3 linked regions of the Homo sapiens genome follow. The protein of the gene in region 2 purifies or fractionates together with the protein of the main gene of each other region. This does not show direct contact. Each region holds a gene or a part of one and is shown on either strand. Other genes may lie near its edges.

Evidence for each region.
Region 1: the proteins of RAB40AL (region 2) and SPTB purify together in Homo sapiens (affinity purification with mass spectrometry; 3 studies listed by BioGRID and IntAct, with this or other methods). This does not show direct contact.
Region 3: the proteins of RAB40AL (region 2) and PSME3IP1 purify together in Homo sapiens (affinity purification with mass spectrometry; 3 studies listed by BioGRID and IntAct, with this or other methods). This does not show direct contact.

Annotation. Positions count from the first base shown.
Region 1 is NC_000014.9:64,876,908-64,883,834, forward strand, and holds the start of SPTB (spectrin beta chain, erythrocytic), read right to left. Parts: upstream 3,001-6,927; 5' UTR 2,885-3,000; intron 2,541-2,884; exon of another isoform or gene 2,372-2,540; intron 1-2,371.
Region 2 is NC_000023.11:102,932,015-102,939,249, reverse strand, and holds RAB40AL (ras-related protein Rab-40A-like), read right to left. Parts: upstream 1,979-7,235; 5' UTR 1,932-1,978; coding exon 1,095-1,931; 3' UTR 950-1,094; downstream 1-949. UniProt on the Homo sapiens protein: May act as substrate-recognition component of the ECS(RAB40) E3 ubiquitin ligase complex which mediates the ubiquitination and subsequent proteasomal degradation of target proteins.
Region 3 is NC_000016.10:57,176,040-57,183,039, reverse strand, and holds part of PSME3IP1 (PSME3-interacting protein), read left to right. Parts: intron 1-489; exon of another isoform or gene 490-1,423; coding exon of another isoform or gene 1,424-1,486; intron 1,487-4,187; exon of another isoform or gene 4,188-4,538; intron 4,539-5,886; exon of another isoform or gene 5,887-7,000. UniProt on the Homo sapiens protein: Promotes the association of the proteasome activator complex subunit PSME3 with the 20S proteasome and regulates its activity.

The sequences.
Region 1 (6,927 bases), on a different chromosome or scaffold from region 2:
TAATAAGAAGTGTGGGTGCCATAGCTACACATCAATGATCAGGTACATTCAGTTAGGTCTTGCCTTTAAGCCAGTAAGTATGCACATGGAAGGCTGGGTTCAGTGACCTCCAGAATCCCTTCCCTCTCCAATAGTGTTTGCCTCATGAATTTTTTATAGCCATCCTCTGTCCTATCACACTGTCCCTATGTATCATCAAGCCCTCCTGGCCACTTCCAGGACTGAAAGGAAAATCTGTTCTTTAAAAAAAAAAAAAAAAATCCATGCTTTGACTCCTGCCAAAATTATAGTTCTGTCCTTGAAACAATGACCTGAAAATAATGGGTAAGGCTAAGAACCTCTGAGCAAATAAATGCCCAATATTATCTTCAGATAATATTTTTTAAGCTCCTCTGATATAAGCAGAACTATTACCTGAGGTCCTGGGAATGAAGATTATGAAGCTAGAAGACAAACAGTCAAATCTTCCCAACTTGTACTTTATATTCCCTGCTGAGTGTCTAACCTTAAAAAGAAGGTAGAACCAAACAAACTGAGTTTGAATCCTGGACCCATCTCTCATTAGCTGGGTAATATGAGGCAAGTTATTTAATCTTCCTGAACCTGTTTCCTTACTTGTAAAATGTTGATATGAGCTACCTTATAGAGTTACCATGACAATTAAATTGGATAATATAGAGAAAACGCTGAGCATTCATTTGTTGGTTTCCTCATTCATTCAACAAAGGTTAACTGAGGTTCCACTACCATCCAGGTACTGGGTACAACAACATAAAAGACAGAATAAAAGCTATTATTATTTACCAAAAACAGTTTGTTTCCAGAGCTGCAGCAGACCTGTCAAATTTTGACTTTAGTTCAAAACTGTCATTCACACCTAGCTTGCCTAAAATACTCATTTTTATTTTGCCAAATGTGATCCCAGGTAGGAGTCTTGCTCCTGTCATACCTTCACCCCCAAAACTAGTCATCTAGCAGGCGTTCTGCTATAGGACACCTTCAGAACACTTGGAAGAAGCATTGATCAGAGCCAAAGGTGGTATCCCAACTCTCTTCTGGGCAAGCCGCTCAGGAGAACTTGATACGCCTGTGCTACAAGGCCCATCCTGGATGCCTGGGAGTCCTTGGGTGCTTACAATTCCATGAGTGGACTCTGAGTCTTCCCAGAACTCAAGATCAATAGGACTGGCTCATCCCCATCATTGCCACTGGGGCACTGATAAAGCTAAGAGCAACAGCTAAGGGGTCTGAAAGCCACATTTTCATGAGCGTTTATGTCTTTCAATGGTGCTTTACTCTAGAGTTTTTGATAAAATTCTTTATAAATGACCCACCTCTGGAGTTAGTGGGTTTCAAGGCTGGTGGGCTCTTCTTCAATGTAAGTTTAACATTCCCTTTCCTGGCTAGCCTGCAAGCCTCCAGGCAAGCACAGGCCTAGCTGTGTCAGGTGCTGGACATTCAGCATACATTAACAATCATTTTGCACTTAGAAAAAAAAAGGTGTTTTCAATTGCATTTTGGAACCTGGGACTCAGAGCAAAAGAATAAAAGCTGAATCCTAAAATAAGAAATGACCTGCCTTGGGTTATAGTGGGGGAAGGGGTGGGCGAAGAGGGAATTCTAGAATAAAATTCAGAGCCATCTGTGAAGCTAAGGATAGGACAGTGGACAGTTGAGCTGTGCCTAAAAATCTTTGATTTGCAGACTCCTCTCATTAGGGAGCCGCCTGAATCTCTTCCCTTAGAAACTAAAATACGGATCGTGACTACCTCCAGGCAGGGGTTTTGCATGACTGCCTCCTACCTGGAGGTGACAGCCTAGTCTCTCCCCACAGAAATTCTCAGTACAAAAAGGCTGTCACTATATCCCCCCACCCCACCCCCCAATCTGATGCATCTAAAATTTAGATGTACAAAAAACAGTGGCTTCTTTTCATTTTCCTTACTCCTGGCTGGCGCCTCTAATTGCTCACTGAAAACAGTGGTTTGGATATTAATAGGCTGTAACTCAAGGCCCTACCTGAAGCTCGTTGTCAGGGAAACAGCACTCCAGCCCCGCAGCTGCTTCCCCAGCCTGGGAAGTACGGATGAGTTGGTGGGAGTTGGGGATTGTTTTACAGCTTCTGTTATTTCTCCCACTTTCTGCTATTTCTCAAGACCAAGTTAGAGGAAGAGGGGAAACTGGAGAGGAGGGTGAGGGTAGAGTAGCCCGGAGAAGCTTAGAGGAAGAGAGGAACTCTTTGGGAGAGGAAGACTAGGGGTCCTTGAAGTATGGCTTGGGGCACTAGGATCTTTCCTCCCTCGGTCTACACGGGGTCACTCTCTGGGTGGCTCCCAGCACCCGGAGGCCCGGCCCCCTCTGCTGCCCTCACCTGTCCCTCCTGCCTGGGCGCTGGGTGGCCCGAGGAGAGCGCAGCCAAGTTCCCCAGAAGAGGGATATGAGCGGCCACAAGGCTGAGAAGCCGGACAAAAAAAGGCAGAGAGCAGCGCTGCGGTCGGACGGGCTAGAGGCGCAATCCCCTTCGCTCCCAGGCCGGGGTCCTGGAGAAGGCGGACGAGAACACGCACCCCCGTCACCCTCTCCCTGCGCCCCGGGGTGACGGACTCTCCGGGATCCCGCTCTCCAAAGCTAGCACCAAGTGCCTCGGACGCCCGCGCGCGTTCCCGCGTCCCGGGATGATCTTTGCCGCAGCTGCCGGGCTTCCCGGGCCCCGCACCCCTCCCACCCCACGCCCGACAACCGGGGCTGGACTCCCACCCGGTCCTCTGGGCCCTGCGCGTCAGGCGCCCCCTGGGCCCAGCGCTCCTTTGAGCTGGCGCCGCGCGTCCCAGCCTTGCGCACCCGCACCCAGCTCCCTTGGCCGCCGGGCCCTCCTGGGACTCACCTGCCCTGGGACTGAAGCGGGGGCCACCCCGAGCCCGGGGGTGGCGGCGGCGGCGGCGCAGGGGGAGGAGGGCAGCGCGGGGCTCCTGGCACAGCGGCCGCCGGGCGCCTGGTGCTGCCGAGCCGCGGACCCGCCCAGAGATATAAATAACATTATCTGAGGAGGGACATTCCTGCCGGGGGACATCGCTGCTGCCGGGACCAGATAGTCCCGCGGCGGGGGCGGGGAGGCGGGGCCGCAGCCTCCCGCAGCGCCAAGCCCAGCCCCCGCCTTCCCCACCCACTCACGCACCTGCCAATCAGCCTCCGCGCCTGGGGGCACCTGCCGGGCCTCAGCCCGGCTCCTGGAACCCGCCTCTGCCTCCCCGCCCGCCGCTGAGCCTGGGGCGCCTCCATCGTCGTTCATTGCCCCTAACCCCGCGCCACCCCGAGCCCCCTGAGGCGGGAAGGGGGTTGGACTCTAGCTCGGGCCTAATTCGTGCGCCCGGAGAGGCAAGCCTGGTGGCGAAAATGAGCCCTCCAGCCTTTCCCGCCCTGCATCCCCACTGCACACAGTTCAGTTTTTAAAATATATGAAAAGACATTTAGGCCATAGGGTGGGCGCGGCGGGTACCCGGGAGGTGAACCCCCGCCGTGGCGGGTTTGGGAGGGACAGATTGTTCCCGGGGGCTGGTGCATTAGAAAGCGCGCTCCCGGGCGGGCTTCTCTCGGCTGGCGGTGGGAGGGCAGGGGGCGGGCACTGGGCCCGAGGGCCCCACCCCCAGCCCGAGCTCAGTGTCGCTGTTTCTGCCCGAAAACCTAGTGTAATCAGGACGAACCAGGCAAAGCTGGCGGCGCGCAGCCTGCAGTCCCAAGGAGCTCGCACATTGTAGGGACTGTAATCAACAGGCAGGCTGCCACACCTGCCCACTGGCACCTCCTGGCCGGCCCGGGTCTCCGGGCGAGTGGGGGTGCCTCACTACAAGCCTGGATGAGGCGCGGCGCAGCAGGCCAGAGGAAATACTAGAACCGATGGTGCCAAAAAGGCATCTCCGAGTTGCCCCCGGAGAGAAACTCAATAGAACACCGGCAGCTTGCAAGGCAGTACATTTTCTTGACTTTCTAACGATCAAGGTCATTGTTCAGTAAGGTTTACGTGTACGCCTTGAGGTAGCTTTCATCTCTTTTCTCCACCTGCGGTGCCTGGGATGATTTCTCACCAGCTATCAACGCAGGTAATCTCAGGTATTATGGAAATGGCCGTGGAGATTAAAAGCGCATAGATGCAGAAGAAGTTTTAACTTTTACTGATGCTGCCTGGTGTTCTTAACAAGGGAACAGTCTTACTCCTGAGTTATTTGCTTGGGATTATAATTGTGCTGTTTTCCAGAATTCACCCAGGAAAGGGGTGTTTGCCAGATGTTCGAGTTTAGTTTATATATTGAACATATGCAAAGATACTTCACTTCCTGCTGCAGTCCCACTTCTTGAGGGTGGGTATTTAGACACTGAGATGTGCTGAGTGGGACAAACGCCCCAGGTATTACAGAGCCACAGAATTCTTCACTCCACCCTCCTCTTGGCTGGATCCTTATTACAGCTCAATTTTCCAAGAGACACTAGTAATATGGGAAAGAGGATACAAAAACATTCATGGTCATCGATAGATTCGCAGTGATCCCCTCCTCCCCTTTGTTGACAACATTTAAGAATGCATTTTTCTATTACTGAGTTAAAAAGAGAAAGTTCTGTTTTGTGAAAAAAAATGTTTAAAAGTCAAATTCTGGCAAGGAAAGCTCAAGAAAAACAGGCCAACTTCAAAAGCTGAGACTATTATATATCTCAAGAAGAAATCCTTCATCTATTTTTGTTAGAAAAAAATGGAGGGAAATTATGTATTTATGGTTTTTTAAAAGCTTGTATGAATAAACTTATTAGATAAATTCATGGTTCTCTAGAATGGTGGTTCTGCAGCTACGTAATTATATACTATGCAAGCCAGATAATTCCTTAGCTATAGGTCTGTGGCACTGAACTGAATAGTTGCATACATATTTTTCTTTGTAGCCTTAAAATTTATAATTTTCAACCATAAGAAAAAATTAATATGATAAAACTCCAAATCAGCAGACAGATTACCCCAACATTTTACAAACCAGCTCAGCTGCTTTAGTTATCTCCACTTTAGCTGAAAGCTAAATAATTCAATACAACCTCATTTGCTACAGAGCATGTTATCCTGACAGCATCCCCAAATGCTTTACAGCTAATAGAGTTACAGTGAAATGATAAATCAGAACTGAGGAAGAGAGGAAATTTAGGCTTGCAGTGAGGAAAGGGCATTGTCAAATAATAGGGAAAGGGGAACAGATCTCTGTGGCCAGGAATGAGAAATTGGGAGAATAAAAGAAGGGAGAAAGGTTGGGCATGGTGACTCACACCTGTAATCCCAGTACTTTGGGAGGCCGAGGCAGGCGGATCACTTGAGGTCAGGAGTTCAAGACAAGCCTGGCCAACATGGCAAAACCCTATCTCTACTAAAAACACAAAAATTAGCTGGGTGTGGTGGTGCGCACCTGTAATCCCAGCTACTTGGGAAGCTGAGGCAGGAGAATCACTTGAACCTGGGAGGCATAGGCTGCAGTGAGCCAAGATCACGCCACTGCACTCCCACCTGGGTGACAAAGCAAGACTCTGTTTCAAAAAAAAAAAAAAAAAAAGAAGGGAGAAGGAAACACATACATATGTTCGTTATCAAGGTCATCATTGTGGGCAATAGGGATCACGTCTGGAGGGACCTCCTCAGAAGAGTATAGAATACCTCTTGGAATTGTCTATGTGAAGGATAGGAGATTAACCCTCATCCTGGTTGGACAAAGGACTGCCCCCACTGGTCTCCCACCCATGTTGAAAACCTACACTTCCGAGCTACCCAGCAAGCTCCACATAGGCAGTCTGCAGATTTGGAAGAGTTCTGGGGCCAGAAGAGAAGGTGTGCATTTGAGAATAGATGTTGACAGCCAGAGAGTGGGGGGTAAACCTTCACAGAACTGTCTACTCAGGTCTAGCTGAAACCAACAGGTGAGGCCAAGAAGATATAAGTTGAGACTTATGTTAGAATCATCTAACATAAGAGGGAACTTTCACTTTCCATTTCTGTAGTCTTTGAGTTTTTCACAATAAGCTTGTATTGTTTAATAATAAGTAGAGATGATAAATAAATTAAAAAGTAAAGATTGGATGGAGATGGTGGATTGAATACACGCATTTAGCTTCTCTTCTACCCCAAATTTCATTAGAAGATATGTCTGAAACAGGCATCTAAAAGCACAGGAAAATAAGGAAAAGGGGATCAGTGTTCCAACAATGTTCAAGAAATCCAGAGATACAGAAAAGATGCAAGATCTGATTCACAGAGAAACAAAATCAGAGGAAACCAAAACAGATTCAGGAGGAGCAATAGTTTAGGGAAGTTGCAAGCAATAGTTAAAGGATACAAGAGGAGGAGGGGCCCTGAGACAGAATAATTCACTTAGGAGCCTCCTCTGTCCTGCTCACATTAAATATCAGGTGTTTGCCTGCAGGACTTAAAAAAAAAGTTAATGGGGATCCTGGGACCCAAGGGGCAGAGCTCAGGGATCTAGTGACCCCAAGAAATGACAGAAACCATTCACTCTCTTGGGATAGCATGTCCTGACCCTTCTTCACAGCCCCTGAAGATAGGCTATGATAAGCAGAAAGAGGAGACAAGCCCATTCCCACATTAAGGGATGATAGGACAACCACCAAATATCTTATGGGGAGAGGGGAACCAATACCATGAAAGAGAAGCACCAAACCCAACTAATAGAAGGAAATAATATCAGAGGAAACTAAGTTAATAAAAGGAACAAGATAAATGTTAAATAATTTAATTTTAATCAGCAAGTCTTGAAAGGATATTGCATCCACAACAAATAATCAGTGAGAAACCTTAGAAATTTAAAAAGTCATTTCTGATATTGAAAATTCATTAGTTGAGAAGCAGAACAGACCTACTTGAAGGGCAAATTAGTGGAAACAGAA
Region 2 (7,235 bases):
ATCCAATATCAATTATAATAACCCACAGTGTAAACTGGAAAGTAACTACATGGAAATCACTTCTCCTTCCTTCCCATCTAAGGTCTCAGAAGTGCTTTCCCAGATGTGATCTCATTAACCTCTATATCGATCTGAGAGGTGTTAACCAAAACTGGCCAGCACAGGGGAAATTACTCACCTAAGGCCTTATAATGGGCCTGGCCCCCCGTGTTCTATTGCATTGTTTTTCTGCAAAGCCTAATCTTGCAGGGTTACATTATACATATTTTTCTTTCTTTTTCTTTTCGTTTTACCAAAAGATAAAAATATATACTTTTTTATTGTTAAGAAACATTTTCATAAATAAGTACTTATTTCATTCCTTACTGAAATGGCTTTTTTCTTACTGACCCATTGAAACCATGTTGGCTATGTTCAACATAACTAGAGATATCTTTGGCGTTTTCCTCCCTTAGCTTCATATCTTGTAGAACATCTTGTACAAAAAAGTAGATTTACAGAAAAACATACATATAAATCACTTATTAATCTCCAAATGTAGTAAAATAACATAGCAAAAACTTTATCAAATCCATTTCGTGCACAAACTGGACAGATCTGTTACGTATAATCTCTATATGCATCTGCAGTGTTTTATAAATTGGTGCTTTGACATCAAAAAGGAGGTTTACAAAAAGTCCCCTCTAGTAATATCAATGACTCGGAATGATCTCACTATCATTGCATCTCAAATTCCCTTGAATTTATACTCATCACTGTCATATCACCATTCTTACAAAAGCGGTTATTTTAAGGAAAAAGATGCAGTGTGATTATGATATAAGTAACATTCAAAATTTCATGTTATCAAGAGTTAAGCAGAGTACTAATTTCCCCTTTATAAACACATGCACATCCACGTAGAAATTCAAAGTCAAACTGCGTAAAGTGCTTTTATTGACAGAAGGCATCACACACATTCCCAAGCAGCATTGTTCCCATGAGAAACTGAAAACGTATTTCTTTGAATCTAGAATGCATCTTCCCTCTTCCAGGTGTAACCATTCAGAGTTTTTCCTGGAGCGATTCCAGCTTGTTTCCTTTTGGTGCCTTCCTTAAGAAATTTTGCAGCTGTTTCTGGTGCAGTTTTTGGGTGGGCTCTGGGGTGGGCAGACGATCTTCACTTTGCAGAGGCTGCTCCTTTTGTGAGTGGAGCTGGTGGTGAGGGAGTAGGAGAGGCCTCGCATCATCCTGGCATTCAGGCCCTTAGCCATGGAGAAGGACTTGAGGTGGCTTCTTAAGGCAATGGGGAGCGGGAGCTTGTCCACCAGATGCACAGGTGTGCAGGACACGATGGTGCGGCAGCAGAGGTCTTGCAAGCTCAGTACCTTGCTCGGCCTCCCGAGCCAGTTCAACCTGTGCCGCAGCAGCACTATCCTGGCCAGCTCCGTGAAAGACTCTATGATGTTGAAATTGCACAGAGGGCTGACCTCAAAGAAGGTCACGCCCAGGCGCTCGGCGTAGGCCTGGGCCTGCTCCCTGGGCACCTGCCTCTTGAATGCCAGATGTAGGCGATTCCCCACCAGGATTTTAGGGACACCAGGGGCATGTTCCTCAATCTTCTTAATCCATCGATCCATACCCTCGAAAGACCAGCGGTTTGCAATGTCGTAGACCAGGATCACTCCTTGTGCACCACGAGAGTAGGAGCGGAATATGGTACAAAATCTTCCCTGCCCCGACGTATCCCAGAGCTTCAGCTTCACCCGCTGGCCGTCCAGCAGGATGGTGGTCGTCTTGTAGTCGATTCCCCCCAGGTGACTGTACGGGGACTCGGCCGTGCCGTCCTGCAGGCTCTCCAGGATCTCACTCTTGCCTACGTCCCTGTCGCCCACCAGCAGGAACTTGAGCAGGAAGTCGTAGGCCTGGTCGGGGCTGCCCGGGGCGCTCATCGTGCTGGCCCCGCCCCCCGCCTGGGCCAGACCAGCAAGGTTGTGCGCAGAGGCGGTGCCGGGCCTATTTTTCTTGAGAAATTAGCATAGAACATAAAAAATGGGATGGGGAAGTCTACGAAATAAAGTGAAATGAGGTGGTGGCTTTGATGGTTTTCTTTTACAAACCCTGGGAAACCGGTTCAGCGATTGTTTTCCTTTTTCTTACCCAGCACAGAGTAGTGACACAGCAGTTAATTCATCATGGAAACCTATACATTTCCCTTAAAACTTTCATGTGATCGTTATGGAACCATGCCTTTTGGATTATGTCAAAGGAATCTCCTTTAAAGGAAGGACGGGTATGAGATAGGAAGCAGACTAAGATGTGTTGAGTACCGTATGTACCCTACGCTGTGTATGACGCTTAAAATAATTTGTTCTTTTACTTCTCAGAACAATTGTCTTTGGTAGCTATGATTGTTTTCATTTTACAAATGAGAAAAGGCAAACTCAGAAATGTTACGTAATTTTTAAAAATCTTGCCGTTAGTATAGAGATCACAGAAATCACAATCCTGAGCCAGTGCTCTCCTTATATAATGCCCCACACATCCTTTCTACTCTGTGGCCATGCCGGGTTTAGGAGTAAGTGTGAACTGTCTGTGCATGTGATCCTTGACAAGCCACGCATGTTTGCATGGGCACTAACACATTTTTTGCTGCAGGGGGACATCTCCCATAAATATAAGAGCCAAGATCTCAGAAGAAACATCTAGGATATGGATTTTTCTAGAGTGTCTCATAAATAATATTCAGCCAAGAAAGATGTGTTGAAATAACGCATGCATAGATCAATGAAGGGTTTTAGATTTAACACACGTACAGATCCTATAACAAAACAGCAAAACTGACAAAATATATAAATGGTTCATGGATGATGAAATGCAAATGGCCAATAATCATAAGAAAATGCATTCTAGCTCACTAATATATAAGGAATGCAAATGCAACTATCTAAATATACTTTTATCACCTATCGTTTGACAAAATTTCAATGTAGAAAAAACTGAATAAGAATTTTTTTTTAATTTGCAAAAGAAAAAGGTAAAAGTGGCTCTGTGTGTGTCTGTGTATGGGGGCAGGATGAGGGACCAAATACATCAAGGAAATGGAAACACACTTCTCAGTTATAAATGCATTTAAATATTGTAACTACAACAGGTATAAAGATGGTTAAAGGAATGAGAATGCTCAGACACATATAAGGGAGTTTAAATTATTGAAATCAAGCCCCAAGGGATAGATGTGTAAGCATGTAATGGATGAAACATTTTTCACATGTACAAAATAGCCAGGTAAGAGGTTATTTGCTACAGTATTGCTGAAATCTTTTTAAAAAGGAAAAAATGAGAAGCATTCTAAATACTCATCAATACAGAACAAACAATAACAAAGTTGTCTCCCTAATTTACACAAACTCCCCTAAAGACATCGCCATGATCTGAATGGTGGAATCTGACCATTTCTTAAGCCTTGGAAGTGCATCTTCTAAAAGGGAGGTGCTCTCAGGGTCCTCTAGGGAGGGTGAGGGATAGAACCTCATTCCAATCCTGCCACTTACCTCAAGAGGCGACTTAGGTTCTGTGAGCCTGAGCTTGGTCATCTGTGAAATGGGACTGACTATACCATCCTCACGGAGTTATTCCCAGGCATAAATGGGAAAACCTGTCCAGGGTATATGGCATGGAATGGGAGGCTTCAATGGCCCTTTAAATATTGAGACATAGCAGTAGGGGTTAGCTGAACCTCAAGGCCAAGGCAGGCATCGTGAAAAATCATTACTCATTGTTTCTCCTAATGAAAACACAGACATCCATATAAAGAAGGCAAATCTCCCTGATACACCTTGATTTCAGAGTTTTAGAGATGGAGTTCTCTACATTCTTGTGTGTTTCATAATCTCACGAAAACTGTTCAACATCATGCCTCCGAGAAGACACAAAACCAGTTCCCCATGCTGGTAAGAAAAAAACTGATCGGTGTAAATGTAAAAACATATGCTCCAGGGCATCCACAAAATGAAACACCAGGTAGCAGTGACGGGGCTGTAGAAAGGTGACGGAGAGAGGTCGGAGGCACTGGAGCAGCATCTGGGGAACTGTGTCTATAGTGTCCTGGAGAGGGGAAGACTGAAAGAGAGTGTGAGAAGGTCTGAGAAGCCTGTACAGGGATAGAGTTATGGAGAGTGAATGCCTTGCTCTCTGGAGGGACCCCTCCTCCCCCGCCCCCGCCCCCGCCCCCTCCGACAGTGTGGACACTTCAACCTACACTGAGAAGGGAAGAGATGATAAATCAGTGAATGCGATGTAGATTTAGGGGTCAACAGCAAATGGACCTGCTTTAATATACATGTGAATTTTCCAAACAGAACTGGAATCAAAGTAAACAAGTCATTTTGAAACATGTTACTCTGCAAAATGTACAAAAACAGAGATAGCTCTGATGCCTCCTAGTGGCCAGAGACAGAAACGCAGCTCTGATAATCTCAAACCAGGGACTCAGGAAGAGGGAGGCATGGAGGTTGGAGGTTAGCTCCAATGTATCAGCCACAGTTTTCTGGAATTATTCACCTAATGGTAGCAATTTCCATGTATCCATCATGTTCCAGAATATATGAAACTGATATTGGTTCCAATCCCCGCTGGAACTAAAGTTGCATCCATGATTTTGTATTTGGGGTGGTAGAGCTAGAGGACACACCCACACAAACACCCACACACACACACAAAACCTCTGTCAATTGGACTTGTTATTTACTTCTTTCACAATAAAATAGAATATAAGGAATGCTTTTTCAAATTAATGGACATTATGTACACCTTAACTTTGACAATTTGTTCCAAAGTATTTTGTGTGTTCAAATTTTCATCAGAATACTTTTATTCCCAAATACCAGTTTTTGAACAGTACACAAGAGCATATTGATAAATCAAAATTAACCTGAGCTCTCACTGGTCAACTCCCACTCCTTAACCCCAAGGGGTCTGCTGTTCCTAGGATGGTGCATACTCTCCAGACATGTCCCTGAAGGTGAGGTACACATCAACACGTTCACCTACACACACACATTGTCTTCTCCAAAAGTGCAATCATGGTACTTATCTTTTGCATCTTGTCATTATAAATTCTCAAGATTTTAAAATATTTGCATTTTATTAGTTCTTGTGGGGTTGGCGTATTTTAGTATGTTTATTGTTCATGTACATTTCATTTAAATTCTCTGTTGAAATAGTTGCCATTTTGTTACTATGTTTCACAAATCATGGATACTAACCCAATTAAACTTCAAAATTTGACTTTAAAATTACACAGATCTTAAATTTCAAAGAAAAAACATTGAAAAACACCTGGGGAGCAGGTACTGCCAGCCTGGAGGGAGATTAGAGCATTCAGGGCCCTGGAGGAATGAAGAGAAATGATAAAAGTCTAGAGTATTACAGAGTTTGTGCTTATCAGGAAACAACAAAGTTGTCTCCCTGATTTACGTAAACTCCTCTAAAGGCAGCAGCCTAATTTGAATAATGGTGATAATGACCTTGGGTAGCAGTTAAGATTAAAGGAGATGAGGTGTAAAGTGCATTTGCTTACAGTAATTCAGTGCATGTTTCTTTCCTTCTCTGCAGCTCACCTGTCCCAAGGCCAACACCTGAGCTTCTGCCTGAGCCCACTTGCCACTTTAAGGATCAGCCCTCTCATGTGGCCCTACAACCAGATCTCATGGCACAAAGCACAGGATTTCACTTCCCCTGTCATCTTCAGAGGAGTTGTTGAGTGGGAACCCATGGGACTACAATAGCAGGGGAGTGGAATCTGACCATTTCTCAAACCCTGGAAAGCCATCTTCTAAAAGGGGGTGCTCAGGGTCCTCTAGGGAAGGTGAGGGATGGAACCTCATTCCAATCCTGCCACTTACTTGGAAAAGTGATTTAGGCTCTGTGAGCCTGAGCTTGGTTAGCTGTGAAATGGGATTGACTATACCAACCTTACAGAGCAGTCCTGAGGGGTAAATGAGAAAATCTGTTGAGAATATACAGCAGGGAGTGGCCTTTAAGTATTGGTACACAGCATGAGGGGCTGGCTGAGCCTCAAGGCTAAGGTAGTCATCATGAAAAAATCACTTCTCATTGTTTCGCCTAATGACAACACAAACATCGTGAAGAAAGAAGCAATCTCTCTCTGAAATGCCTTAAGTTCAAAGTTTTAGAGACCAAAGGTCTCTGCATTCTTAGGTGCTTGAAAGTTCCTAAGAGCTATTCAACATCATGCCTCTGAGCAGACCCAAATCCACTTCCCCATAGTGGTAGGACAGGAGCGTTTGTGAACTCACCTGGTGAGCTCCACGACAGATCACATCAGGGACACAAGGAGTGGCAATTATCTAATGAGTGCTCCAGCACTGCTCAGTATTTTAATATGTTTATAGGAATCCTGTAGACCGGTTCTGCAGTAAACAGTGCAAGGTTCCCAGATCACACATTATCCAGCTACATTACAAGAGGATTTCAGCTATCCGCTGCCTCCTTGAGAGGCAAAAATCTAGGAATTACAAGAATTTCTATAACAGACAATTTTCTATTCTTTCATTAGGTAATAACTGAAAGTGTATTGAGCTTTAAAAGCATACTAGTCTACTGGAGGTGTCTCATTAACTAAAGTGGAAAGAGGGTAAGAATTCAAATGAATATATGGGTAACTTCATGGTTCACATTTGAGAGGAGATGGTTTCTTCAAATTAACTTTAAACTTTCTCAAACTCCAAAGAATTGAAAATTCTTTTTTGTTTTAAAAATCCTTTTTTGTTCCTCATCACCTGATACAGTTCGAATATATGTCCCTGCCAAATTTCATGTTGAATTATAATCCCCAGTGTTGGAGGTTGGGCCTGGTGTGAGGTGTTTGGGTCATGGGGGCAGATCTCTCAAGGCTTGGTACTGTCCTCATGATAGTGAGTCTCCTGAGATCTGGTTAAGTGTGTGGCACCCCCCCGCCCCCCCACCGCTCCCACCGCCACTTTCTCTCTCCTGCTTTCACCATGTGACATACATACTTCAGCTTCACGTTCCATCATGAGTAAAAGCTCCCTGAGGCCTTCTCAGAAGCTAAACAGATGTTGGTGCCATGTTTGTAAGCCTGCAGAACCATGAGCCAATTAAACATCTATTCTTTATAAATTACCCAGTCTTAGGCATTTCTTTATAGCAATGCAAGAATGGCCTAATACATCATCAATTCAATTCAGCCACAGGATATCTTTCTTTTCTCC
Region 3 (7,000 bases), on a different chromosome or scaffold from region 2:
GCTGTGTGCCAACCTTATGTCTTTTACTGAATGAGTGTAAGTTCCTCAGTTGCCTGTTTAGTACATAGCATTGTATCTTGCACATAATAGGTTCTCGGTAAATATTTGCTTCAAAAATCTTTTTTCTTTGAGATGGAGTCTCGCCCACTTCGCGCAGGCTGGAGTGCAGTGGCGCGATCTCGGCTCACTACAACCTCCGCCTCCCGGGTTCAAGCAACTCTCCTTCCTCAGCCTCCCGAGTAGCTGGGATTACAGGCATGTGCTACTACGCCTGGCTAATTTTCATATTTTTAGTAGAGACGGAGTTTCACCATGTTGGTCAGGCTGGTCTCGAACTTCTGACCTCAGGTGATCCACCTGCCTCAGTCTCCCAGAGTGCTAGGGTTACAGGCATGAGCCACTGCGCCAAAAAAAAAAAAAAAAAAAATCTTAGTTGGCCTTGTCTGGTTATTGTAATGCAAAGTTTTTTTTTTTTTTTTTTTTTTTTTAAGGGAAATGGGTATCTCCTTATGTTGCCCGGGCTGGCCTTGAACTCCTAGGCTCAAGCAGTCCTCCAGTCTCAGCCTCCTGAGTAACTGGGACTGCGTTTTTTTGTTTTATTTTGTTTTTAATTTGGTCTTGAAGTGGAGTTATATAGGGTGGGGGGAGGGAGGATGGAGTATGACTTGAGGTGTGGGTTAGGTTCTGAAGCGAGCCTAGATGACAAAATAGCTTACAAGCAAAGCTACCCTTGAAATCTCAGGGAGGCAGCATGTTAATTGTAGGAATACCAGTGTTGCAGAACTCTGACATGGCCAGTGTGATATTGTAAAATACATATTTGGCCTTCATCCCTGTCTCCTGTGGCATATGACTCCTATAATCCTTGAAATCTCCAAAATGATTAGTGTCTTTTTATATGCTAAGGAGCTGACTGATGGCTGGCAGCCCCTAAGTAACTTTAGCATGGGGGCTGGTCACTTGAAAGACCCAGGCAGGATTAGAGGGTTGGGACCTTCAACCAATGTCCAACCTCTGGGGAGAGGAGAAGGCAGACGAGCTGATGACCACCAGCGTCACTGGTTTAATTAGTCATGTCTAAGTAATGAAGCTTCCATAAAAATCCAAAAGACTGGGATTGGGGAGCTTCTGGATAGGTGGACATGAGAGGTTCCTGGATGATGGTGCCCCAGAGAGTGCATGGAAGCTCTGTGCCCTTCCCACATGCCTTGCCCTATGCATTGCTTCATCTGTATCCTTTGTAATATGCTTTTATAATAAACCAGTATATGTAAGTAAAGTGTTCCTCTAAGTTCCTCTAAGTTCTGTGAATTGGTCTAGCAAATTAATAGAACCTAAGGAGGGGGTCATGGGAACCCTGATTAATAGCCAGTTGGTTAGAACTACAGGTAAAACAACCTGATTCTTGTGGTTGGTATCTAAAATGGAGGCTAGTCTTGTGGGACTCACCCCTCAACCTATGGGATCTGACGCGGTCTCCATCCAGGTAGGTAGTGTCAGAATTGAACTGAATTAGAGGACACCCAGCTGGTTGGTGTCTGCTACAGAATTGGTTGGTTGCTTGGTGTGTGGGGACATATCCCTCACAGAATTATACTGTGTTGATTGTTGAGTGAGAGAATAGCAAAAATGCTTTGGTTTGGTTTGGGTTTTTTTTTTCTCTATATCCTCAGGCAAGTTTTATTTCGGCTTTGGAAAAAACTGCTGTTTTTCTTCCTGTGAGCCCCAGATGAAGTTGTTGGTTTGTATTTAGGAGTCACAATATGTAAAAAATACAATGAATACAATCATTCATGCATAGTGAGGGAAGTATTTATATTCAGAGAGGTGCATGTGAATGAGGATCAGCTAAGGGAACCGATATTTAAATTAGTTATCTTTCTTCTAGTGTGTATAGGTGAATTCAAGATAAATGCACATTTGAGACCCTGCCCTTGTGCTATGGAAAGATAAATAAATCAATACTTTTTTTTTAACTTCTTTTTTTTCCCCCTCGCCAGGCAAGGTCGGTCTTGTGCTGTTGCCCAGGCTGTAGTGCAATGGCCCTCATAGCTCACTGTAGCCTGGAACTCCTTGGCTGAAGCCTTCCTCCCACTTCAGCCTCCTAAGTAGTGCACCATCACACCTGGCTAATTTTTAAATATTTTTGTAGAGAGAGAGTCTCACTGTGTTGCCCAGGCTGGTCTTAAATTCCTGGCCTTAAGTGATGCTCCCAGCTTGGCCTCCCACAGCTTTGGGACTGCAGGCATGAGCCACTGTGCCTAGCCTGTTTGTCTGTTTGTTTGTTTGTTTGTTTTTAATAGAGTTGGGGTCTCACCATCTTGCCCAGGCAGGTCTTGAACTCCTGGGCTCAAACAATCCTGCCTTGGCCTCCCAAAGTGCTCAGATTGCAGGTGTGAGCTAGTGCACCAGGCCTTAATTTCTTTTCTTTTTTTTTTTTCTTTTTCTGAGACGGAGTCTTGCTCTATTGCCCAGGCTGGAGTGCAGCGGCGTGAAATCTCAGTTCACTGCAACCTTCGCCTCCTGGGTTCAAGCGATTCTCCTGCCTCAGCCTCCCAGGTAGCTGGCATTACAGGCACATGTCACCACAGCCAGCTAATTTTTGTATTTTTAGTAGAAATGGGGTTTCACCCTGTTGGCCAGGCTGGTCTTGAACTCCTGACCTCAAGCGATCCTCCTGCCTCAGCCTCCCAAAGTGCTAGGATTACAGGTGTGAGCCACCATGCCTGGCTGAATTTCTTATTGTATGTGTTTCATAGATGCCTGAAAGATTATTGCAAAGCTGAATTTTTTATTGTATGTGTTTCATAGATGCCTGAAAGGTTATTGCAAATTGCTCCTTATGATAAACATTTAAAATATGGATTAAATTTCTTTTTCTGTGGTTTAGTTTTTAGATTCTTTTAGTCTCCTTTGCTACCGGAATATGTTAATTAAGCTTTGGTGTTAGAAGATTGACTTCACTTTGCCTAGTAATAAATACTAACAGCGGGCTCTCTGTTAGTAGTTGTTGTTCTCTAAATAAATTTTATGATATAGGAAAAGTCAGCTAAATTTTTAAAAATCTAAATAACTGTATCTTGGTAGAAGTGCCTTCTGGCCAGAAATAAGTCTTTATTTGAAATATAGATGAGTTAGCCAGATGGCAAATTCCTCTTAGTTGCTGTCCTGCATTTTGAAGTACAGTGTGACTTGAACATCAGAGTAAAAAATGTTGGAAAGCAATAATCTATATTTACTCACAAAAGGAAATGGATTGACCTATTGCTTTTGCTACTGAAAGTGAAGCCTTAAAACAACAGAACACAGAAACCTGATTCTGGTGTGTTTTAACATGTACAATCTAATTAATTTTAGAATTAGAAGGATATGGTGGCCAGTGATGTAAACACTCAAGTAGTTTGCCATCACATAATTCAATTCCATAGGAAACCAGATCTCATTACTTTGTGTCATGGCACTAGCTAAATGGAGTCATTTTTCAAGTTAGGAATAGCAATTATTTGGGGAGCAACAATGTAAGTTTTGTATTTTAAAACATGTGTAGTGTGCTATGTAAGAACTGAGCCCATTTTGTCCCACCACCCTGGAAATTAAATGGGACGGTCTCCAATGTAAACCCAGTAGTTCAGTGTTACCAGTTACTTTGGCTTGAAATATAAGAACTTTGTTTTCTTGACGGTCAGGCAGATTTGAAAACCACGTTCTTTATTTGTGCCAATTTGGACTCTAAGTTTGGTGGACAAAGTGAATTTTGAAATGGTTTTAGTTTTCCATGAATTCCCTATTTGAAGAAATTGAATAAATCCTTTAAAAAATAATGTAATGTTTAGTTTGATAATTAAACTTGAGTCACTTTGGAAAACGTGAGTAAAGGAAAGCTGACAGCATTTGTTTACTCTTTCTAAAGTGGAACACAGTAAGGACAAAGTAAGCATTCCTAATGTAAGTCCTCTGCATTCCTACAGGGCTCTTCACAGTTAGAGCCCGTATCCCTGATATCCCTGGGCTGTTTGTCTTTTGATTTGTTTTTAATTACCCTAGCAAACAAAAGGGAAAAAGAAGAGACTTGTGAAAATTTACCTAGACAATAGGAATTAGAAGTCAACACAATCTAATTTTCTAGCTTCTTTGTCTACTTCCAGCAGGTCAGTAAGTTACAGGTACTTATCACCTCTTTCTTGCAGAATAAACAGCCATTGGACTCTTCAAACAAAAACGCTGTCTCCATCAAGTACTGCTTTCGCAGGATAAGTGACCATTTTTAATCAGTTGAAATTAACGGAAAGTAGCAGTTATTTTTGAAAGATGACATCAATTATATAATATAGTAAAGAGATTTAATTTTTAGTCCTTTGTTTCTTACTGCACAAATTGTATGGCGTTTGAATAGAATTCCCATGATACTGACACTTCAGCAAATACTTGCTTGATGGCTACCAATCTCTATAACTTACATTGCACAGTACCTAGGAATATTCATGTGAGTTCATTCCTCCCTGCTCAGATTCTTCAGCTCCTCGTGGTTGGTTTATTCAGTAAGTATTTGAATACCTAATATATGCCAGACACTGTGCTAATAATAATAAGCACTGTGGAGACAAAGAGCTGTTGGAACAGTCACAGATGATAAAACACAAAGAATAAGGGCTGTAGTAGAGTTATGAATGATCATAGCAGGAACACAAAGGAAGGAAATACATATTAACTACTCTAGGAGGTCTTGGAAAGCTTCATAAAGGAGATGGTCTTTAGTCTGATTCTGGGCGGTTGGAGCAGCAGTTTGCATCGGGTGAAAAGAAAGCAAGGGCATTCCTGGCAGAGGGAACAGCCTGAGCAAAGCCATGCAGAGAATGAAGACCTACAGAAGAAAATGCTAATTTGAAAAAAGATGCATAAAGCAGTCTATGTTTTAGTCTAGTCTTTTTAAACTTACAGAAATTTATTACTATGTGTGTCCATCTAACTTGGCTTATTTTCTTTATTTGGGGATCAAGGGAATGCCAGAATTATGATATTAGTTTTATTACTAATTAATTAATTTATTTATTGAGACAGGGTCTCACTCTGTTGCCCAGGCTAGAGCGCAGTGGTGCGATCATGGGTCACTGCAGCCTTAGCCTCCTGGAGTAAATGATCCTCCCACCTCAGCCTGTGAGTAGCTGGGACTACAGGCACACATCACCATGCCTGGCTAGTTTTTTAAATTTTTTGTAGAGATGGGGGGTCTCACTTTGTTGCCCAGGCTGGTCCTCCTGCCTTGGCCTCCCAAAGTGTTGGGATTATAGGCATGAGCCACCATGCCCAGCCTGAATTAAGATATTAGTTTTAAAGAGCAGACTTTTGTAAGTGTGCATTAGTTTTGACAGTGTGACTGTGTTTTCAGGACACCAACCCACTGAGAGCTGATGAGAAATACATTTCTTGTATTTTTCTTTCCCCTGCAACGCTTGCCTTTAAATTTTTTTTTTAAATATGCATTTACTTTATTTCTTATTTTCATTAACCAACTGATTTCTGGTTTTGTCCCTGTGTATAAAAGATTGTAGGCCGGGCACAGTGGCTCATGCCTATAACCCCAGCACTTTGGCAGGCTGAGGTGGGCAGATTGTATTGCTTGAGTCCAGGAGTTTGAGACCAGCCTGGGCAACATGGTGAAACCCTGTTTCACGAAAAAAAAAAAAAAAAAAATTAGCCAGGTGTAGTGGTGCATGCCTGTAGTCCCAGCTATTCGGGAGGCTGAGGCATGAGAACTGCTTGAGCCCAGGAGGCTCTCTGAATTCTTATTTAGGTAGAAATGTAAAATTCTAGGGTTTGTTTTTATTGTTGTTGTTGTTGTTTTTGGCATATTGGAAGATTTTTAAATTTTCTCTTTTAAAAATATAGGCCGGGTGCAGTGGCTCACACCTGTAATCCCAACACTTTGGGAGGCCAAGGCCGGTGGATCACCTGAGGTCAGGAGTTCGAGACCAGCCTGGCCAACATAATGAAAGCCCATCTTTACTAAAAATACAAAAATTAGCCGGGCATGGTAGCACACACCTGTAATCCCAGCTACTCAGGAGGCTGAGGCAGGAGAATCGCTTGAATCTGGGAAGCGGAGGTTGCAGTGAGCCAAGATCGTGCCACTGCACTCCGGCCTGGGCGGCAGAGCGAGACTCTGTCTTAAAAAAAAAAAATTATATATATATAACAAGAATGAAGAGAGACATTTACTGGGACACCAATGGCATTGCCGTATCCTAGTATTTATTTCCCAGGTTTAAATCATATCTAATCTGATAAATTCATTTCCTTCAGACATGATTATTTTTCTCCATCTTATAAAATTAAAGTAACTAGGAATGTTTGGCTCAGAAAAGCAACAAATTAGGAGGAACATGGGAATTGTCTTCAAACAACTGAAGTATGGTCATGTTAGAAAAGATTTGATTCTTTTTGTATAGTCCCAGTGGATTGAACCTATGTATTGAATTTATAGTAAAACAGATTTCAGTTCAGTTTAAGGAAGAACTATCCTAACAGTCAAATCTGCTTAGAGAGGGAGTTGGCTGCCTAGGAAGGGAATGCAGTGGTCCCTCTTGAAGTTTTAATATATGAGTTGGATGACCTTCTCCTGGGTGTGTATGGTAAATTCAGATGTCGAGTGGATTATCATATTAGGTGGGCTATAAGGACTATCCCACCCTGAATTATTTACTAGGAAAAATGGGTGATGGAAAGAAACCAGATGATTAATACAGGATGAGAAAGGAGACACGGTTAATAGGGGATAAGAAAGGGGGAAATTGAGGGTTCGGAATGTCTCTCCCAACCATTAGAGCCCTAGAAAGTTCACGTTTTCTCTGCCAGAGACATTTAAGAAATTGTTGGCTCTGGTTTCATAAGAGGTTGTTCTGTAGAACTTGAGGAATTTTTGGCATTTTCACAGAGACTGAACAGTTCTGCTTCAGTAATGAGCCTCTGGCTGGAGTCATTGAGTGCTGCTAAATCAGAAGTG